Homo sapiens: one gene and its partners. The protein of the gene in region 3 interacts with the protein of the main gene of each other region in a biochemical or structural test. Each region holds a gene or a part of one and is shown on either strand. Other genes may lie near its edges.

Evidence for each region.
Region 1: the proteins of NYAP1 (region 3) and TLN1 interact in a test that uses a peptide from one of them, tested with the Homo sapiens proteins (one study listed by BioGRID).
Region 2: the proteins of NYAP1 (region 3) and CYFIP1 form a complex in vitro, tested with the Homo sapiens proteins (one study listed by BioGRID).

Annotation. Positions count from the first base shown.
Region 1 is NC_000009.12:35,722,196-35,729,802, forward strand, and holds part of TLN1 (talin-1), read right to left. Parts: intron 3,533-7,607; 5' UTR 3,500-3,532; coding exon 3,370-3,499; intron 3,127-3,369; coding exon 3,029-3,126; intron 2,765-3,028; coding exon 2,635-2,764; intron 2,530-2,634; coding exon 2,377-2,529; intron 2,140-2,376; coding exon 1,997-2,139; intron 1,885-1,996; coding exon 1,757-1,884; intron 727-1,756; coding exon 666-726; intron 29-665; coding exon 1-28. UniProt on the Homo sapiens protein: High molecular weight cytoskeletal protein concentrated at regions of cell-matrix and cell-cell contacts. Involved in connections of major cytoskeletal structures to the plasma membrane.
Region 2 is NC_000015.10:22,866,552-22,872,975, forward strand, and holds the end of CYFIP1 (cytoplasmic FMR1-interacting protein 1), read right to left. Parts: intron 6,422-6,424; coding exon 6,274-6,421; intron 3,642-6,273; coding exon 3,477-3,641; 3' UTR 501-3,476; downstream 1-500. Other genes in the region: magnesium transporter NIPA2, read left to right, coding at 1-296. UniProt on the Homo sapiens protein: Component of the CYFIP1-EIF4E-FMR1 complex which binds to the mRNA cap and mediates translational repression. In the CYFIP1-EIF4E-FMR1 complex this subunit is an adapter between EIF4E and FMR1.
Region 3 is NC_000007.14:100,486,657-100,494,263, reverse strand, and holds part of NYAP1 (neuronal tyrosine-phosphorylated phosphoinositide-3-kinase adapter 1), read right to left. Parts: intron 7,444-7,607; coding exon 7,082-7,443; intron 6,113-7,081; coding exon 4,598-6,112; intron 3,748-4,597; coding exon 3,535-3,747; intron 3,279-3,534; coding exon 3,169-3,278; intron 619-3,168; coding exon 361-618; 3' UTR 1-360. UniProt on the Homo sapiens protein: Activates PI3K and concomitantly recruits the WAVE1 complex to the close vicinity of PI3K and regulates neuronal morphogenesis.

The DNA of each region.
Region 1 (7,607 bases), on a different chromosome or scaffold from region 3:
CACTCATCTGCCCACAATTCTTGTGTGCCTGTGCATAAAATGGGGAAGAATTTAGCAAAGAGTTTCATATCACAGCTAAGGAATTAAGGTTGGATGCTAACTCTAACGAGAGAGAATTATGGGGACACTGGAAAGGTTGAGGAGTACAAGATATGAGAACGAGAGGGTAACGGGATGGAGGCTGATAAGGGCTATGCAGAAGCGATGAGTCAAGGGATACAGTCAAGGAACTTGCAGACATTCTGGAGATATGAACAGAGAGTTTGGAAGTAGAAGGGCAAAGAGAAGGCCTTCTGGGCTGAGTATTCAGAGTGGGGGTAACACCTTATAGTGGACAAAGACTATACTCTTTCACAGTAATTTCAGATTATGCTACCTCATTTGATCCTATCAGTCCTACACGGGGCAAGTACTGTTATCCCAAATCAGAGGTAAATAAAAGATTACAAGAATATTGAACTGAATTGCACAGCAAAAGCAGGGATGGAGCTGAGACTAAAAGCCCAAGCTGTCTGCTTTCTTGGCAGAGGTGAGGTGGGATAACAGCCCGGTGGGTGAAAGCCAAGTTAGGGGAGACGGGGAGGAGGCAGGGGGCCATTTAGTCAGTAAGATTAAGCAGCAAAGCTCCGCGGTCATCCCAAATACTTTCCCCTACCCACATTCACCTGGAAGATCTTACGCTCTCCCTTCTGCTTCACATACTCCTTGGGCAGGAAGTCCTTCAGGCTACACCAGAAAAGGGAGGGTCAGCATGTGGTAGACAGCATCAGGGGACATGTGGGCCATGAACTGTGGGCCTGGGGGTATGAGGAAATACCTAGGACAGTGTTATCTTTGGGGAGAAAAAAGACTCTGAGGGAATAGAGTCTAGATTATCTTCTGAAATAGAGGTGACTTCGTGTAAACTCTTCTTTTTTTTTTTTGAGATGGAGTTTCACTCTTGTTGCCCAGGCTGGAGTGCAATGGCACGATCTCAGCTCACCAAAACCTCCACCTCCCAGGTTCAAGTGATTCTCCTGCCTCAGCCTCCCGAGTAGCTGGGATTACAGGCATGTGCCACCACGCCTGGCTAATTTTGTATTTTTAGTAGAGATACATGGTTTCTCCACGTTGGTCAGGCTGGTCTCGAACTCCCGACCTCAGGTGATCTGCCCGCCCTGGCCTCCCAAAGTGCTGGGATTACAGGTGTGAGCCACCGAGCCTGGCCAGTATGAATTCTTAATGTGACCTGTGTCTCTCCCTGTAGGGAAAGGGACTGAGGAAAATTAAGTTAGAGGCTCAGTCCCTGAGGGAAAGTGGGTCTAGAGCACCATTTCAGGGAACCAAGAGGAGAAAGAGCTTTCTAGAAGGATGAACATGCACTTAGGAAGCTGAGAAAGCCACGCCAAACTCTGCATTCCAAGAAACACCAGCAGATGAGGCTTGTGAGACTTTTAACCCATGTTCCCTATAGGGAAAATTTTACCCGGTTTCCCTCTGGCTACTGCAGCAAAATTCTTCAGATAATCTCAAAAAAGAGTGACATGCTTGCTTCAGAGATGGGGGTAGGGGCAGAGATACTGAACTACATTCATATTCCAGAGGCAGAGAAGAGACAATGGATGATGGCAACTAAAAGGGTAGCTATGTTGGTCAAACCCTGGTACCTCGGAAGAAGAAATAGTGGGGGGCAGGCTTGGAATGGAGACAGGCCCACTGGGGTCACAATGGCAGGGAGTCCTGGGCCCTGACAGGGTATAGGATGTGGGTCACTCACTCAAGGAAGCCAGCCTTGTGCTTCTGCTCATTGTGGGGCCCAAACTGGATCTGGCATTGGAAGCCAGCAAACTCACAGGCCTTGTCAAAGGAGACAGGGTGGGAGCCATTCAGGATGTCATCTCGTGCCTGGAGAGCACAGGGCAAGGAGGCGAATGTTGTGTGTGGGTGCAAGGACACGCACACTGTGCTTCCGAGCCCTCCCTATTCCTGCCCCACCCCAGCCAAGTCCTCTGCATACCTGCACATACAGGAGGTTCAGCTGTACAGGGTCCCGGGAATCCACATTCTGGTCTGAGTAAAAGAACTTCCTCCGCAGCAGCAGCGTCTCGTGCTCCTCTACACCCTGCTCCCTCAGTGTCCGACCATGGTCCAGCCAGTTCACTGGGATACAGACAGTCCCCTCAGTGCCAAACCCCCATGGCCCCTGTGCTGTCTGGTCTCTGTTTATTTCTGCATTTCCTACCTCCCCTCACTTAAATGTAAGTCCCATGAGTGTAGGACTTTGTTTTCTCACTGATGTATCCCCAGGGTGTAAAACAGTGCCTGGCAGAAGCAGATGCTGAAGCCCCTTCCCACCCTTCCCATTTCAAAAGCCCTCTTTTTTCTAGTTCTGCTTACACTCATCATCTGTGTGCAATTTCTGCTTTAGTTTCTCCATCTTCTTTTCATCTCGCAGCAATGTCTTGTCCTTTCTTAAGGTCCCTGTTATTTCCTCCTTTTTCTCTTCCATCAGCTCTCGAACCAATGAATATTCATCATGATTGGTGATGCCTGAGGAAGGAGATGGCTTGTTAGCTTCCCAGGTACTGCATCCATGCCTTTTGAGAGAGTTGAGGCTTTCTGGCCCAGGCTTTCAACTGTACTAGGGCCCCTTACCAATGCGGGCACAGATGGTCATGAGCATGTCAGTGACAGTCTTAGAGTCATCCACCATGATCGTCTTCACAGTTCCATCCAGCATACGGATCTTCAGGGGTCTCTGTTTCTTCCTGTACTCCATAGTGTCCTGTTAGGGCAGGAAGAAGAGACAGGGGCCTACTCTGAGCTAGGGGTATTATTTCCTCTTTACACAGCCCGAGGGGAGAGAGTGGAGCACTGAAAGGAAGACTATGGTGGTTCGTTCAAAAGCAGGGAATTATGACTGTCTGTTAATAGGAAGAAAGCATGGGGAGGGCTAAGAGACAACAGATGTGGGTGCTGAAAACAGGAGGTGGAACAGGGAGAAGCTGATGGAAGGGGATGTGGTGGTCCTTGATGAAAGGATACTTACCCCATTTCGGAGCATGTAGTAGTCCAAAGCTTTCCCAGCCTCCAGCCATATACCCTTTTTGGGGTCATCATCTGACAGAAAGAGCCCAAAGTCGCTGGCTAAAAGAGAGGATGGATCACTTTAGGCTTATGAAGACCCCAATGTGGCTGAACAGCTTGTACCATGTTGCCCCTGACTATTTCTCCCATGACCTTGGGCCTAAAGAACGAGGGAACCATGGAACACAGACCTGAGGGGTGAGTAGTCTTAGGGGACAAAGGGGTCAACTCTCAAGGCCGAGAGCCTGGGAACAAGAAGGGACTGAAGACTCCCACTCCAGCCACCGGGGGAGTCAGACTCACGAGGACCAGCTGGGGCCTCTGGGATCCGCTCACGAATGATGCGGCAGGCGTCGTACACCATGGTAGACGGCTCAAACTGCATCGTCTTCACCACATTCCCAATGCTGATCTTCAGTGAAAGTGCAACCATGGTGGCAGCTTCTTTTCTCCAGCCTGGCTATACCTGACCCATGGCATCAGGGCATTAGAATACACTCTTCTGGTGGGAGAAGAGGCCCCCCAGATGGTGGAGTCCAAGGGAAGAGTGTTTTTGAAAGGGACTCACCAAAGTAGATGGTAATAAGGTTGTTTTCATTGTATTTAATAATTTTAAAGAGTGAAAAATTATTTACATCAAAAGAATGAGTCCTGACAATTTTTTTTTTTGAGACAGAGTTTCGTTCTGTTGCCCAGGCTAGAGTACAGTGGTGCGATCTCAGCTCGCTGCAAGCTCCGCCTCCTGGATTCACGCCATTCTCCTGTCTCAGCCTCCCCAGTAGCTGGGACTACAGGCGCCCGCTGCCATGCCTGGCTAATTTTTTGTATTTTTAGTAGAGACGGGGTTTCACCATGTTAGCCAGGATGGTCTCGATCTCCTGACCTCGTGATCCACCTTGGCCTCCCCAAGTGCTGGGATTACAGGCGTGAGCCACCACGCCCGGCCAAGTCCTAACAATTTAAGACATCTGAGGGAAAGGAGAAGCTGGTCTGCAAGGTACAATAGCAGGTCTGAAATGCAGTGCTACCTGAGGACACTGCCCTGCCCCACCACTGGAATTTGTACCTCCCTACTTTCATCCAAGTATCTCTCTTGCCCCTTGTCCCTGATCACCTTTCTCAGCCCTACTCCTGCCTTCTTTTCATTTTTGCCTGGTTCAGTATTTTTCTCTCTTTGTCTCCTGCTGTGTCCTGCTGGCTCTTCCCTGTCCGGGATTTTCAGAGCTCTCTTCTCACCACGTGACCTTCCTTCTCATGGCTTTAGCTGCCTTCTCTGCAAAATGAAGATGTTATAATTCCCTAAGGCTCTTGAAGCCTGCAAACAAACTCTAGCTAGCCTGGCAGGGAGACCAAATACTGGTTGCTCAAGCCATTCAGGGGTCCGCTCTTGCCCCAGCTTTTTTCTAACCTGAGATGCGGGGGCCTTCTGAAGGAGCCTAGCCCTGTACTGGGCTTCCCAGGCAGTCAAGCTAGAAATGTGATTCTCTAACTCAAAGGGATCTATCTCAGAAGTTATCTGGTCAACTCTTGTGTTTTGGAGAAGGGGAAATAGACTCTGGGAGGCCAGGAAACATTTTCAAGACAGGCCAGAGAAAGGACCCAGTCCCTGTAACTCAGTCCTTGCTTGTTCCAAGTCATCAAGTTAATACTCAGTCCTGCAACTCCTCCCATGCTTTCTCCTCTTCAGCAAGTCTGTCTCGAATTCTGCTCTGTCTCACCCACTTCCCCTGACTGTATTTTCAGTGCAGCTCAGAATACTAGTCCTACCCCACCTTCTTCCACCCTCCTGGCACCCCCTCTCAGCAGGCTAGAGGAGGCACTGGAGGCAGCAGGTGGCGCACAGGCTGCAAGAGGACAAGTCTGCCCGGCTGCTGCTGATGTGCCCCTGCTTGGTACAGGGATTGGGTGCCTCTTAACTAAGAGAATGGGCAAATACAAGCTGCCCATTCCCCTCCTGGCAAACTACAAGCCTCAAATGGGGAAAAGCAGGGTGAGAGGGGAAGGCTGGAAAGCAGAGATGGGGGTGTTAGGATACAGAAGGCATTTGAAAGCCAGGGAAGTTAAGAAGGGGTAGAGGGTAAAGAAGTTAGGAGAGATGGGATGAGGAGAATTGAAAATCTAAGTAGAAACAAGAGACAGGAGGCAGGTATGAAAATGGTCTAGATCAGCGGTCTGGTACCAAGTGGCAGATAGACCATTTCTGACCTTACAAGCAGTCCAGAGTCTCAAAAGAGAAGAACCACAGCTCTCTGTCTTTACTCCCCAATAAGAGAGGACCCTCCCAGTCTCCCCAGTTCCAGCTCTCTGCCCCCTCCCCACTCCTGGGGCACTTTGCCCAACCTTATTACTATCCGCTTGTGTCCCAGCTGGACAGACCTGGCTATGGGGTTGCTGACCATGAAAGAATGAGGGCTGGGCTGGTGGATCCGAGAAGCTGGAGGAGTCTGTGGAGCCAAGAAGCAGGACTGAAAGGACCCTTCACACTAAGCTGAAACTGCATGTCTCCCCCCATTTCCTCTGGACACTTAGACACCCCCTTCCTCCTCAAGCACGGAAGCCTCTGGTGAGACCCCGATAAGGGAGCTGAGTCATGCCTACCCTTACTCCCCAGCTGGTCCAGAGTGGATATTCACACAGCTACAAGAGGGTGTGTGGACGCGAAGAACTGATCAGTGAATTGTGGGTGGTGGTGGCAAAGAACAAGGCTGCTACAAGTATGAGTAGAAGCTAGCTCATTCCTCCTTTGGCCTGAGAACTTTGCTCCCTTTTCCATTGTGTTTGATGGAACAGCAACTCCCCACTGCCGTGTCCCCCTCCCAGGGAACTCCTCCTCCCTCAATACATTCCTGCGATGCATTCCAAAGAAGTTGGGCAATTGGAGGGGGGGAATGGAGGACAGGAGGTCAAATCCCAGCAAGGAATGGAATGTAAGAGTATTGGAGCTAAGAAAGTTGGGGTACTTGGAGAATATAGTCAGAGCAGATACCCACAAGGGGAATTGCAGAAAGATAGGGAGTTACAGACAGGAACAAAAGGAAAGAGCTTAAGACAGTCAGAATATAAGAGGGATGGGGGAGTAACACTCAGTCTGTTACCAAATTTGGCCTCTGAGTCCGCAACCGCTGGCAGTGGGGGAGGGCTGTGGGTGAGACTGACATATCCGGCCTCAGGCTGCTGGAGACTCATTTAGAGCTGGACTGGGCAGCTAGCTGAAGGGCTGCACAGAACTTCCCCCGGTACAGCCCCTCCATACTCAAATGCACACTCATTCTCCCCAGATGCACCCCAGCCTAGGCAGAGCTCTTTCCCACAAAGCTACCTTACTCTCTCTATACACACATTATCTCAATCACACAGCCCCCACACAGATCCCATCACGACTGCATTATCTTCTCCTAGGGAGCCCATCCTATGCACACAGCTTTTGCACAGATAACCTCCATAACAAGCACACCCGGCACCCAGTGTCTCTCCTCCCATTATGTAGACATTCTCCATTCACCCAGCAAGCATTCCTTGAGGGCCAGCTGTGGGGAAGACCCTGGGCCAAACTTTCAGTGGCTGGGGACCAAGATCAGTAAGACCTAGCCTTTGAGTTCAAAGGGCTCCCAGTCCACGAGATGAGTGAATAAGCCAAGTACAGAATCACAACGGAGGGCAGGATGTGGTAAGAGCCAAAAGGTGTGTGCTCAGAGAGATCCCTTTAGGTCAGGGAAGGGGAACCAAAAAGTCTCCATGATAAGTATCATTTGAAGCTAGAATTTTAAAAAATAGAGATAATAAAAAACAATAGTGATCTGCCATTTATTGACTATGTCACTTGCATTGTATACATAATTTCATTTAATCCTTACAGTAGGTGTCATTATTTCCATTTTTACAGATCAGAAAACAGACTCAAAGATGTTAAATACTTGTTCAAATACTTCTCCAAATAATAAGTTGTGAAGCCAGGATCCGAACCCAGGTTTCTGACTGCAAAGCCCAAGCTTTCTCCACTACGCCAGCCAGCTGGAGATGTGTCAGGGGTAGTTTTCACTCCAGGCAGAGAAATAGCATAAGCAAAGATGGAGAAGCAGTAAATCGTGGAGGAGCATTCAGGGAAGTGAGCAGGCAGGCTGTTGAAGCACAGGGGTACCTGCAAGGGAGCAGTGGTGGGGAAGTCAGGGTTAGGATGGAAAGGCAGAGGAAGACTGGAGAGGGGTATGAGGAATTTTACTTATTGGAGGACAAAAGGAAGCCAAGGGAGTCTTTGAGCAGAGAAGAGACATAACCGGAACTGGATTTTAGAAAAATAACTCTGGCAGTTACCTTGGAGATTAGTTAGAAGGACACTGTATTAGTACAAATTAAAGGTAATGAAGCCGGAGTTGGAATGGCATTGAGGAAGATGTCACTCAGAACAAGTTTGGGGAGGTAGAAATGACAGGACCTAATAACTACTAAGGTAGACAGGTTAGAGTCCCACAGCTTCCTATCATCAGCAGCCACTTTAGCGGCTGGGGCAGCTTGAGTTTAGGCGACGAATTGGGAAGAGGGGA
Region 2 (6,424 bases), on a different chromosome or scaffold from region 3:
GTTCAGCTATTCTTTTTAAGGAGTGGCAAGATATGCCTGTTGACGATGTCATTGGTACTTTGAGTGGCTTCTTTACAATCATTGTGGGGATATTCTTGTTGCATGCCTTTAAAGACGTCAGCTTTAGTCTAGCAAGTCTGCCTGTGTCTTTTCGAAAAGACGAGAAAGCAATGAATGGCAATCTCTCTAATATGTATGAAGTTCTTAATAATAATGAAGAAAGCTTAACCTGTGGAATCGAACAACACACTGGTGAAAATGTCTCCCGAAGAAATGGAAATCTGACAGCTTTTTAAGAAAGGTGTAATTAAAGGTTAATCTGTGATTGTTATGAAGTGAATTTGAATATCATCAGAATGTGTCTGAAAAAACATTGTCCTCAAATAATGTTCTTTAAAGGCAATCTTTTTAAAGATTTCACTAATTTGGACCAAGAAATTACTTTTCTTGTATTTAAACAAACAATGGTAGCTCACTAAAATGACCTCAGCACATGACGATTTCTATTAACATTTTATTGTTGTAGAAGTATTTTACATTTTCATCCCTTCTCCAAAAGCCGAATGCACTAATGACAGTTTTAAGTCTATGAAAATGCTTTATTTTTTCATTGGTGATGAAAGTCTGAAATGTGCATTTGTCATCCCCACTCCATCAATCCCTGACCATGTAAGGCTTTTTTATTTTAAAAAAACAGAGTTATCCCAATACATTATCCTGTGATTTACCTTACCTACAAAAGTGGCTCCTGTTTGTTTGATGATGATTGGTTTTATTTTTGAAATATTTATTAAGGGAAAACTAAGTTACTGAATGAAGGAACCTCTTTCTTACAAAACAAAAAAAAGGGCAGAAATCACCCCAAGGAACGATTTCTCAGGTTGAGATGATCACCGTGAATCCGGCTTCCTCTGAGCATTCGATGGCCTTAGCACCTCATCAAGCCAGCACATCCTGCCTGCTGTTGCAGCCTGGCTGGGTTTATTCTTCAGTTACCCTAATCCCATGATGCCTGGAACCTTGATTACCGTTTTACATCAGCTCTTGTACTTTTCAGTATATTTTCATAATGAGTTATATTGTCATTTAGACTTTGAACAGCTCTGGGAAATAGAAGACTAGGGTTGTTTCTTAAATTTAGCTCATGTTATAATAAAAAGTTGAAATGAAGTTCTTATTCTAAAAGTCTGAATGCTTAGAACAAACTTAACATGTTTATAGAATATGGTCTCTTTGTACCAAGTACTTTGCTTAAGAGCTCCTTTGGGCCACTACATATTTTGGTTTCTAGAAAATGTTTGTTTATGAAGAAGTCGATGGAAAACTGCAAACATATGCAGAAAAGGTAGAATAATAAAAAAGGTCTAATGAACTCCATTCAGCTTTGAACCTATCCACTCATAACCATTGACTGGCCTTTAAAAAAAAGTATTGGCAGAATTAATTTCCACCTAGGTGATGGGAAGAAAGTGTTCGCCTGTTCCAGCCTGTGGCTCCTGCCTGGAGGTTACCCAGTGGTGCGCCAGCGCCAAGCCATCACTCCCCGAGGGCCTCCCCTGCCAATGGTGCTGGTATCCCATGCAGCTCACCACTGGCTGCGTGGAAACTCCCTTTTTTCCAACTTTATTATTGGCCTTCTAAGGAGCTGTTTTAGATGTTTTTTCTAACTGCCTCCTCCCATGCCATTTTAATACTACAGATGTACTACGTATCTGTTTATATACTGTACCTACATCTGTGCTTTGTACATAAAAGAACCAGTTTTCTCCCCCTTGAGGACAGAGACTCATTTGAACATGCATAGGTTAATAAATAATAAATTCTTATTTAACATTTTGTAGCACTTGAGATTGTCTTATACCTAAGGTATTACATATTTGGTATATAATTAAGCCTTATAAAACTTGGTAATTGATTAAGTTTTACCATAATTTTTCATCCTATTCTGTAGTTTCTAAGATAAGCACAGCTACCACCTCTAAATCTGCAGCAGAATGCTGGCCCCAGGGTTATTAATTCACATTACCAAAAGCATTTTTAGGGAACTTTTTATAAAGAAAGAATAATTGTTTGTTAGGCTTCATGTCACTTGAGTGAGTTTGGCAGTGTAACAGGATGGTTCGTACACTTACTACTTTTCTGTGCCGTGCATCATATGCTTCTGGACAGTTTCCAAAGGCCTCCGGAAAAGTAGGCGAGGCCTGCTTTTTATGGCAACTTGGCATCCATAGAAAATTTTAAAATTGGTGAAGGTTGCAATACTCCAAATAATGTAAAATGACTGCCAGGCTACAATATAAAGTGAGTTCAGTTAATCATGCTGGACTTGTGTTTATCTGTAGTATTCATCTACAATAAACAGGCATAGCATCTTTTTCCATTCAGTTAGTTAGGATTTTCAGAACCTCATTGCCTTAGTACTTTTTAAAATATGGCTTTAGTTTCTCAAACATGTTCGTGACTCTACTGGTAGTCTAGACCGATTGTTTTTCATTCTGACAGATCATGTGAACCAGCTCCAGCCATGTGAGCCCTGTGGATCGGGGACAGCTGAAGGCTGGACTCGGTGCTCCCGGTCCCTTTGTGCAGCACCCACTGGGCCTGACTGATCTCCTCCCACATTGCTGGCTTCCTCCAGGTCATGGGCACAGGTAACAGAGAGGCACTGAGTAGCCTCTTCATATCCAGATTGGAGCAGCCAACACGGCCGTTTTACACCTCATTTGCCTGCGGAACCCTAAATATAAAGCTAAACCTGTGCTGAGGTGAGCGGTATATGGGATGGTGTCACGGTCCCATCCCACCTCAGCCTTAGAGGTGACCTCCATCCCAGCTGGCCTGGTATGTGAGTTCAGGTTAGAGTTCCTTGCCAAGCCAGGCAGCACAGGGTTAGAGTAAATAAATGAACACAAATAGATCTCATTAGTTTTATTTCTATAACCTTTCGATCTGATGTCACGTTAGATTTTGTCACAACTGGATTTAGTGGAAGCAGGGGAATCAAGTTCACTATTTTCTGAAACACACAAAAAAGGGATGGGAACAATGACTTAGAACTAAGATTGCTCATAAAAGACCATCAGAAAGATCCCTAAACAAAAGCTAAATAGTTACAGTTAATGGTAACTGGCAAGGGATTTAATGCATTTGCTGGTATTAAGTTTCTTATGGAATGAATGAATGAACCCAGCAGCATTTTATGACACAGCTGCCAGAACATCCCATAGAAAAACAATTTTGTAGGAACGTGATGGCAACAATCAGCAGCCAATATTCTCAAGAGTTCCTAATTACCAAAAGCATATACAATTTTAGTCTAGAAAAATAAGTCAATTTTATAAAATTAAGTTTTTAGATCGAAAAGCACCCCCTTTAACAGGTACAGAGATACTGAAAAATAGTCCCTAAAAATCTCACTAAATAGTTTACGGAGAGAAAGGCATGCCATGTTGAGTTACGGAGTGCAGCGCGTGCCCTCAGCTGCTGGCGAGGGACTGGTGGATGGGCGGCTGGAAGCAGCGCACATGCTCCACTGGCGTGCCCTCCCCGTCGCCTGACTTCAGGTACTTATCCAGGATGGTGATGATCTCATCATTGAGAATCTGGAACTTGCGAATTCTCTCCACCATCTTCTTCAAAGGCTACAACCATCAAAGTGAGGATGTTTTACTATTAACACTTCAACATTTATTCTTCATGTTTCAAAATGTCAGGATTCTTATATTTTCTCAGAAAAATAATAGCAAACGGAATTGACACACATACTGTTCTTTTTGGGTTTTTTTTTGTAAGATAGGGTCTCACTCTGACGCCCAGGCTGGAGTGCAGTGGCATGATCACGGCTCACTGTAGCCTCAAGACATCCTCCCACCTCAGCCTCCTGAGTAGCTGGGACCACAGGCGTGTACCACCACACGCAGCTAATTTTTAAATTTAATTTTGTAAAGACAAGGTCTTATTATGCTGTCCAGGATGGTCTTGAACTCCTGAGCTCAAGCAATCCTCCTCTGCCTCAGCCTCCCAAACTGTTGGGATTACAGGTATGAGCCAGCACTCCCAGCCACATACCATCTCTTTAATGCAACAGTTGGAAGGATGAATATATTTTGAATTTAGAATCCCTCTGTTGGCTTCATGCTGCTGTAGATTCATTCATGCGCACAATTGATAGGCCTATTCCTTCCACATTGGCAATTAAGAACCTACTGTCTGCTCAAAGCTGGGGATCTCCAGATGAAGATGATGTGGTCAGTGGAGAAAGGCCAGTCAACTAACACAAGTTTTAGACTTCCAGTTTGGAAATACTGTGACGGGATACTCTGACAGACCCTCCTGCTACCACAGGAATAAAGAACACGAATTAAGAACATACACGCAAACAAAACGCTTTGAAAAGCTGGTTCTACCTATGCAGGTGGTAAGGGGGAAGCCAGGGCCTCCTCAGGGGCAGATGCCAACAGCGGCGGTGGGGTGAGGAGCAGCCCGGGCGTAAGCAAGCGGGACCACACCGAAGACTCCCCAGTGAAGCCAGGACCTCCAATTCGGCTAAAGCGGCCCTGAGTTGGTAGCACCCCATAGAGATGGGCAGATACAAATGCACATCTTGGGGGAAAGCAATCTAAATTAACTCCAGTTAAATAAAGACTCCCAAATAACCCAACACACAAGGAAACAGCAAAGTTTTAAATACCTCCAAGGCCTTCAGATACTAGAAGGAAAACACACAGAATATAGAATACATGAATTGGATAAAGAAATAAGAGATGGAAAAAGTTCAGTTAAGACAATAAAACTGTCAGTTACCAAGAAGATTTGAAGAACCTAATTGAACTTTAAAAAGTGAACTAATAATATTTTCAGAGTAAAAGCTCAGCAGATTAGAGCTGAAGTAAACAAGTTAACTAAGACACATGAATACAGTATCTGGACACAGCTCTGGGAGCCCCGGAAATGGAGGAGTGGGAGGCAGAAGGGCCCCTGAGAGAGGCCCATGACCTGGAGCCTGTGACTGCATTGCCTCCACTCCACGGGGCCTGGGCAGGTGTGGCTAAGACTGGACTGTAGAACAGGGAGAGTATCTGGGGTTGTCCAGTGGGCTCAATATAGTCACAGTCAGGGAATGTTCTCTGGCCGGAGGCAGGAGAGACATGGCAGAAGACTAGAGGCTGAGACTGCCCAACCCACCATTGCTGGAGGGGGCCACTTGGAAAGCATGAGAAGGAAGGGGGACCCAGTCCTACAGCTGCAAGGAATAATTGAGCCAACTGTGCATAAGCTTGAAGGCCTCCAGGGTGAACCCAGCACCTCAGACACTGGCCCCATGAGACTGAGCAGAGGACCCAGCTGGGCCTGGCTGAACTCAGGCATCTGACTTAGAGAATTGTGAGATAATCAGTGGTATTTAAACTGCCAAGCCTGTGGTGATTTGTTGTCATGGAAGCAATAGAAAACTAATACAACAGGGCTGGGCGCGCCTGTAATCCTAGCACTTTGGGAGGTGGGCGGATCACCTTATGTCAGGAGTTCAAGATCAGCCTGGCCAACATGGTGAAACCTAGTCTCTACTAAAAATACAAAATTACAAAATACAAAAATCAGCCGGGCGTGGTGGCAGGTGCCTATAATCCCAGCTACTCGGGAGGCTGAGGCAGGAGAATCACTTGAACCTGGGCAGCAGAGATTGCAGTGAGCCAAGATCGTGGCATTGCACCCCAGCCTGAGCAACAAGAGCGAAACTGTCTCAAAAAAAAAAAAAAAAAGAAAGAAAAAAGAAAACTGATACAACAAAGAGATGTGGAGAATAGAATGAGAAGGTCTAACATATGTTTAACTGAAGTCCTGAATGGCAAGAATAGGGAGAATGGAAAGGAGGCTGAAATATTTCAAAGATAATGGCTGAGTATTTTCCAGAATTCAACTATGAGGGATCCATAAAGCAACAAAGACAAAAGGCCTTTAAAGCAGCCAAGAAAGCACAGACTTCCAGGGGCCCGAAGACTATAGTTGCCAATATTCTGACAATGCAGATCCTGTAAGACTGGAAGTAAATCTAAGTACCTTGAGAAGGAAAACGGAACAATGAGTATTTTCTCTGCCAGACTGCTTTACTGGCCAATTATATTTAGATTCATTTTGGGAACGAAAAGAAAGTTTCTGTTGGTGGCACCTTACGTACTAGGATGAAAAACATTGCCAGAAACAAGAACTTATAACACAAAGAAAGTATGCTTTTGCAAAAGGTCCATAGATGGTGCGAGATTTTCATCCACATACCACATTTTTAATAATCTCATCTTTGCCATCATGTTTCTGGACTTTAAGTAGATGGTAGCAGAAATCCAGCACAGCAAAACGCCGCTGCTGCCCAAGAAGTACGATGATCATACAGCCAGCCCAGTGTAGCCCATCACCAAAGCACTGCCTA
Region 3 (7,607 bases):
TTCAGCTCACCCACCCCCCTCTTCCTCCCATCCCTTCCTTCCTCCCTTCCCCATGCTGACCTCTGGCTTGGTTCAGGAGGAGGGGTGTACAACGCCCAGCGGGAAGAACAGCCAGAGCGACTCTCGCCCCAACCTCAAGCAAACCCTCCTCCTCCTCCGTTTCTCAGCAGCGCTGTTGGCATCCTAAGCCCAATGGGCCTGGCAGACTCTCCCCATCCCGGGGGGTAGGTTGGAGGGCAGGGGTTCTCCCTGGCACTCTCCCACGTAGTCTTTCAATGTCTCTCAAGGCGAGGCTCCCGGGAGAGCCAGGCGTGCCCGCCCCCTCCCCAGTCCAGGCGCCCCGGTACCCCCCCGCCCGCCTCAGATGGCGGTGTCCCAGAGGACCGTGTGCTGCCGGCGGCAGGGCGGGGTGCCGGACTTGCGGGGCTCGGGTCCCCGCCGCCAGCTGGGGAGGATGGGCATGCTCTCCTGCTTGCAGAGGCCTCGGTCCGGGCGGTGGCGCGCCTTGATCTCCTTGCACACGCAGCGCTTGCGCTCGATCACCTCCAGCAGCTTCCCGTCACGCTCGCGGGCCGGCTGGGGCGGCAGGGGCAGAGGCAGCGGCAGCGCGGGGTGGGGCTGTGCCGCGGGCGGGGGAGAAAGGAAAACGCGGGTAAGGTCGGGGACCTCAGCATGACCGGACGGGTCCGCACTGCCGAGACCCACGTCTCCCCTCAGAAGCAAGTCCTTGCTTGCCCCCCAACGGCCTCTGCTGGCTCCCTCTGGCTGTGGGGCCCATGGGGGCCAAAATCCAACTTGCGCAGCTTTGGCCCAGCCACTCCCTAGTCTTCCTAGACAGGTGCATTTTTTAAGTTGGTCCCCCTAGAAGGGATCTCCCCTTTTTTTTCTTTCTTTTGTCTTTTTGAGACAGGGTCTGGCTCTGTCGCCCAGGCCAGAGTGCAGTGGTGCAATCATAGCTCACTGCAGCCTCGACCTCCTGGGCTCAAGCAATCCTCCAGTGTCAGCCTCCCTCCCAAGTAGCTGGGACTACAGGCATTTACCACTACACCAGCTAATTGTTAAAAAATTAAATTAAAGTTTATTTTTGTATTTATGGGATCTTGCTTTGTTGCCAAGCCTGGTCTTGAACTCCTGGCCTCAAGGGATCCTCTCATCTTGGCCTCCCAAAGCACTGGGATCACAGGTATCAACTACCGTGTCCAGCTGGGGCAAGGGTAGACAAGGTCCCTCCCTTCCTCCTTTCCTCCCTTTCTTTCTTTCTCTTTTCTTTCTTGCTTTCTTTTCTTTCTTGCTTGCTTTCTTTCTCTCTTTCTCTCCTTCTCTCTTTCTTCCTTCTTTCTCTCACTCTCTCTCTTTTTCTTTCTTTTGACAGGTTCTCCCTCTGCCACCCAGGCTGGAGTGCAGTGGAACGACCATGGCTCACTGCAACCTCCACCTCCCAGGCTCAAGTGATTCTCCTGCCTCAGCCTTCAGAGTTGCTGGAACCACAAGCATGCACCAGCATGTCTGGATAATTTTTAAATTTTTTGTAAAGACAGGGTCTCCCTATGTCGCCCAGGCTGGTACAGAATTCCTAGGCTCAACCACTTCTCTTGGCTCGGCCTCCCAAAGTACTAGGATTATAGGCGTAAGCTACCATGCTTGACCTCTTTATTTTTATTTCTTTTGAGACACGGTCTTGCCCTTACACCCAGGATAGAGTGCTGTGGTGGGATCGTAGTTCATTGCAACCTCAGCCTCCTGGGTTCAAGCGATCCTCCCGTCTCTGCCTCCCACAGTTCTGGGATTGCAGGCACAAGACATAGTGCCCAGTGGGGAGGTCTTTTTCCTAAATCGCACAAAGGTGTGCTGTTGGCTAGTGGTGGCCCTGACTGATCTCCAAGCTGGGCCCTACCTTGCTGCCCATCTTAAGCAAACCCTCAAACCCTTCCCAGATCCTCTCCCAACCCCCTCACTCTCATTCCTGGGTTCCCGCTGTCTGCGCTGGCTCAGGCCCCAGTCTGCCTGGCCCCTTTTTTTTTTTTTGAGACAGAGTCTAACTCTGTCGCCCAGGCTGGAGTGCAGTGGCATGATCTTGGCTCACTGCAGCCTCCGTCTCCCGGGTTCAAGCAATTCTCCTGCCTCAGCCTCCCGAGTAGCTGGGATTACGGGTGCCTGCCCCAATGTCCAGCTAATTTCTGTGGGGTTTTTGTTTTTTGTTTTTTGGTTTTTTTTGAGACAGAGTCTCTCTCTGTTGCCCAGGCCACTGGAGTGCAGTGGTGCGATCTTGGCTTACTGCAACCTCCGTCTCCCGGGTTCAGGCGATTCTTATGCCTCTGCCTCCCGAGTAGCTGGGACTACAGGCGTGCGCTACCACGCCCGGCTAATTTTTGTATTTTTAGTACAGATGGGATTTCACTATGTTGGTCAGGCTAGTCTTGAACTCCTGACCTTGTGATCCACTCGCCTCAGCCTCCCAAACTGCTGGGATTACAGGCATGAGCCACCGCACCTGGCCCTAATTTTTGTATTTCTAGTAGAGACAGGGTTTCACCACATTGGCCAGGCTGGTCTCAAACTCCTGACCTCAAGTGATCTGCCCGCCTCGGCCTCCCAAAGTGCTGTGATTACAGGCGTAAGCCACCGCACCCTGCCTGGCCCCTTTCTTTCTTTTTTTTTTTTTCTTCTAAGACAGGGTCTCACTCTGTGGCTCAGACTGGAACGCAGTAGCGTGATCATGGCTCAATGCAACCTCCACCTCCCAGGGTAAAGCCATCTTCCTACCTCAACCTCCAGAGTAGCTGGGAATTCAGGCTTGCGACGGCACACCTGACTACATTTTGCATTTTTTATAGAGATGGGATCTCACTATGTGGTCCAGGCTGGTCTCGACCTCCTGGGCTCAAGCAATCTACCTGCCTTGGCTTCTGAAAGCATTGGGATTACAGGTGTGAGCCACTGCAACTAGCCTTCTTTTAAAAAAAAGAAAAAATAGAGACAGGGTCTCACTATGTTGCTCAAGCTAATGAACTTCTGGCCTCAAGTGACCCTCCCACCTTGGCCTCCCAAAGTGCTGGGATTACAGGCATGAGCCACTGTGCCCAGCCCTGGCCCCTTTATTGCTTTTCTTTGCATATTCAAGCCTTCTCCACCTGCTCCTTCACAAATAAAAGAAAAACCAAGCCTCACCTGGCTCAGGGCATCCCTGGGCTGGCTGCAGGGCCGGGGTGTGTGGAGCACGACCTGCCGGACTCCGGAGGTGGAGGCGGAGCGCCCCAGGCGGTAGCCTCCCGTGAAGTCTGAGGTGGAAGAAGGAGGAGTGAGGAGTGCAGGGGCCTCAGGTACCCCTCCCCTAGTTCCCAGTCCCCTGCCCTTGAATGGTCCAGGCTGCCCCTGCCTCATCAGAAGGGAAAAAGGGGTGGAGATGTGGTATGAGGATTTAGGGCCCTGGGCACAGACGTGAACAGGTGAGAGGAAGTCAGGACAGGTGCAGCTAGACCCCGGGAGATCCCCCAGCCAGCCCCGCTGTGCACAGGTGTGTGCAGGCCGCGTCACCTCCATTGCGGTGGCAGGCGGGGAAGGTCTGGCAGGGAATGGGCAGCGCGGTGCGGCTCCCTCCTCGGTCTCCATGGTGGATCCTGGCCAGCAGTCCCTCTGCCCCCTGGCTTCTCACTGGGATCCCCGATGTCCCAGGGCCCCTGTCCTCACGCTCCACCTTGCCTGGACCCTCGGCACTGCCATTCCAGGCCCGGGCACCGTCCTCGACCTCTGCTGGGATGACAAGGAGAGCTGTGTGCCTGCATGTTGGAGGCGTCATTCTGTCCCTCTGGCCACACATGCTGCAGTATGGGTGGACCAGGAGACACAATTGCCCCTTTTGCAAGTAACGGCTGGGATGGGGCTCCTTCACACTCCCCCAACATACATACAAACACACACACACCCCTTCCTTTCCACCCATTGGTACCATCTCTTGGGGCTGAGAATCATGTCTATGTGCTGCATCCAAACCCTTTTCCCTGGTCAGAGGGGCCTCCCCAACCGCAGCTTTAGCTTCCAAGCCCCTCCATCTCCAGATAGGGCGAGAATGACCATCCCCCTGGGATCAAGACCTGTAGGGGGAGAATCCCAATTCCTGAGCCCAGAAGGGGGAGCGCTGGGGGGAAGGGCTGCCTGTGAACTAAGCTCATCTCTGAGAGGAGGCCTGGCAGAGCATTGCGTTGCCAGGCAACGGTAGGGGCCTCCCTCTCCTCTCCCTCCTGTCTGGATGGGTTGCCATGGTAACAGCTGGGAGGCAGCTGTGTTTAGTTCCTGGTGCGCACACTCACAAGCACACACCCCTGCAGCCCCGGGAAGGGAGGGGCAGGGAGCAGAGCAGGACAGGGCCAGATTTGACCCCCTTCGCCTCCCAGACCTTCCTGCCCCTCCAGCGCACACTGGGGGACCCCGGTCTTTCTGTCTATCGCCCACCCCCACCTCTCTGGTCTCCTAGAAAACATCCCAGACTCAAGGCTGTGACTTCCAAATAACCCCTCCAACACCTCCCCCAAACCATCGCAGGCATCCCCAGCTGCCCCCCACCCCTGATGCCAGCCCCCACTCCCCACCCCTCACTCACTGTCCAACTCCTTTGCTTTTCTCCCTCCATAGAGGACCTTCCTCTGCAGGGCCCAGCCTGCCCCAAATGTCGCGGCGCCCACCTCCTCTTCTTCCTCCTCTGGTGTCCCTGCGCTGGCGATGACGTGGGCACAGGAGATGCTGGCAAAAGCACCCCCATCGGTCCCTTGCTCCTGCAGCTGGATCTTGACCATGGGGGATGGGGCCCCCACACCACAGCCCTTATTCAGCACCCCCCCAGCCTTGAGGCTCTCATAGGCAGGGGGTCTCTTGAGCCCAGCTGCTGTGGCTGGGTAGGTCCACAGCGGGGTCAGGGGGCCTACAGTTGGGTCCGGAAGGCTGTGGGGGGAGGCCAGGCAGCCGCGGTGGTGGAGGACCCCAGCTGCTGCGCCCATGGCCCCACCGTGGGGGCTGGTCTTCCCTGGCACAGGGGGCCTTGAGCTGGTACACAGCATCCCATGGAGGACCGAGATCTCCTTCTCCGTCTTTGGCTCCCCAGCACCCAGGGGTGGACCAGCTGGCAGGACAGAGTGCGTGGTCACCTTGACCGCCGAGTACACCATGGTGTAAGACACGGCCTTGTCCTTGGGGGGGCCGGGGAGCAAGGCGGCCGGGGCAGGGGGGGCTGCCGGCGCCCCCGCCGCCTTAGGGCAGATCATGCTGTGGGAGTTGGGGAGCTCCCGCTCCCCCCGGGGCTGGCCAGAGCCCTGGGGTGGCAACGGTGTCGAGTGGCTCCGGGCCCGGCCCGATGGTCCCAGCAGCAGCAGGTTGGCAGCAGGAGGTGGAGGCGGTGGGGGAGGCGTCTCCCGCTCCCGTGCAGGCACTTGGGGAGCTGGGGTGGAGCCGGCTGGCTCCTTGGAGTGGCAGAGGACAGGTAGCCTTGAGACCCCATCGCCAGGGGTTCGGGAAGCAGACTTGGCTTGGGGGAAGGCCAGGAGTGGAGGCCGGTGCTGAAGGAGGTTGGGGAAGGGCGGGGGGATTTCACAAGGAGTGGTCTTGGTGGGCGTCCCGTCCCTCCGGCTCGGGAGGGCTGAAGCTGGGCGGCGGTGGGCATGGGGCGGAAGGGCGTGAGGCTGTTGTGGCGGGGATGTTGCCGTCAATGGTGGAGGGCCATTGGCCCGGCCTTCCCCAGCCTCTTCCGGCAGCGGGTACTTCATCTCTTCATAGATGGCCTCACTCTCTTCAGAGTCCGAGTCGGCGCCCGCTGGAGGGGTCGGGCCCCCACCCCCAAGAGGGGGCCCAGCCAGGCCTCCTCCACTTCGTCCTCCTCCCCTAAAGACGTCCCCCACCATCTCAATGTACACAGGCTCTTCCTGGGCACCCACATCAGGGTCCCCAGCTACTCGGGACCCCCTAGTGAGGCGCTGAAGAGGCAGGTTCCCCCCTCGAGGAGAGGGGCCTGGGGGGCAGGACTCATCGAAGGAGACAGAGAGCTGGGTGTTAGGGCTTCGCCTGGGCTTCTGCGGAGGAACCTTCCGGCTGGACTCTCGGCCCTCTGGGGTTGGCTTCTGTGAGCCTGGACAGGACAAGAAAGAGAAAAATAAACCAGGCTTTTAATGAGGGGAGCAAGTGGGAGGAGCCCATTCTGATCCCTTGACCCTTCTGCAAGGACATATCTGCCTCTTCCTTTTCCCCACATTCCTCAACTTACAGCCCCAGGAGGTTTCTTCATTTCTTTTTTATTTTTTAATAGAGATGGGTCTTGCCATGTTGCCCAGACTGGTCCCAAATTCCTGGGCTCAAGGGATCCTCCTGCCTCGGCCTCCTAAAGTGCTAGGATTCCAGGCATCAGCCACCATGCCCAGCTGTAGGTTCCTTTTCTACTAGTCAGCCCTTGGTCTTTTTAAAACGTCAATTAATTGGCCAAGCACAGTGGCTCACGCCTGTAATCCCAGCACTCTGGGAGGCCGAGGTGGGTGGATCACCTGAGGCCAGCAAGCCTGGCCTTGTCAGCCTGGCCAACAAGACGAAACCCTGTCTCTACTAAAAATACAAAAAATTAGCCGGGCGTGGTGACGGACGCCTGTAATCCCAGCTACCTGGGAGGCTGAGGCAGGAGAACTGCTTGAACCTGGGAGGCGGAGGATGCAGTGAGCTGAGATCGCACCACTGCACTCCTGCCTGGGCAACAGAGCGAGACTCTGTCTCAAAAAAAAAAAAGTGCTGAGATTACGGGCGTGAGCCACGGGGCTTGTCCCACAGCCCTCAGTCTTTCTAACGTATTCTCCAGAATTCGCAGCTCCTACCTTCATTGTCCCTCTGAGGCCACCACCCCTTTCTCAAGAACTTTTCAGGGAGTGTCCCCTGCCCTTGAATGGTTCATCTCAGGCCCATCCAAAAGGACCCCCCCAATTCCTTTTGAGAATGGAATCTTCCACTTCCTTGGTTCTTCCCTGAATGAACCCTCCCGGCAAGCCTCCCCGGGCGTGGAATAGATCCTCCCAGCTCCCAGCTCCACCCCAGGGAGAGATAGGGGGTATCTCACCTGCTTTCTTGCTGGGGGGCGTCTCTGCCCCAGACCCAGGCCCCACCATGCTGAGCTTGGTGCTGGGGTGTCTCCGGGGCTTGGCAGGGGGTCTTCGGGTGCTGCTGTCCTCTGTGAGGCCCCCACTGGCCCCGCCAGGGCCACCCCCGACACTGTCCATGCTGCCCACCGAGTGGCAGGAGAGGGAGCGTGGGGCCATGGCGCTGCGGCAGGGGTGCGGGGTGTGCTCCTGGGAGGCGGGCATCGTCATGAAACCCATCCTGAGGGAGCGCCGCAGCGAGGCGATGTCCCGCACGCGGACCCCAGGCCCCTGGCCGGCCGCGGGCCCAGCCGAGCCAGCGGGGGCCACCTCCTTACTGGAGCTGGGGAGAGAAGGCCACGATGGAGTGGAGGAAGGGCCTCGGACCTGGGCATCCCCCTTCTCCACCCCAAGAGGTGTCAGCAACCCTGTGGCTTCCCAGGGAAGAGGACGGGAGCCTGGGTGGGGACAGGGTTGCCAGAAGGTCCAGGGCACCAATGAAGGGGC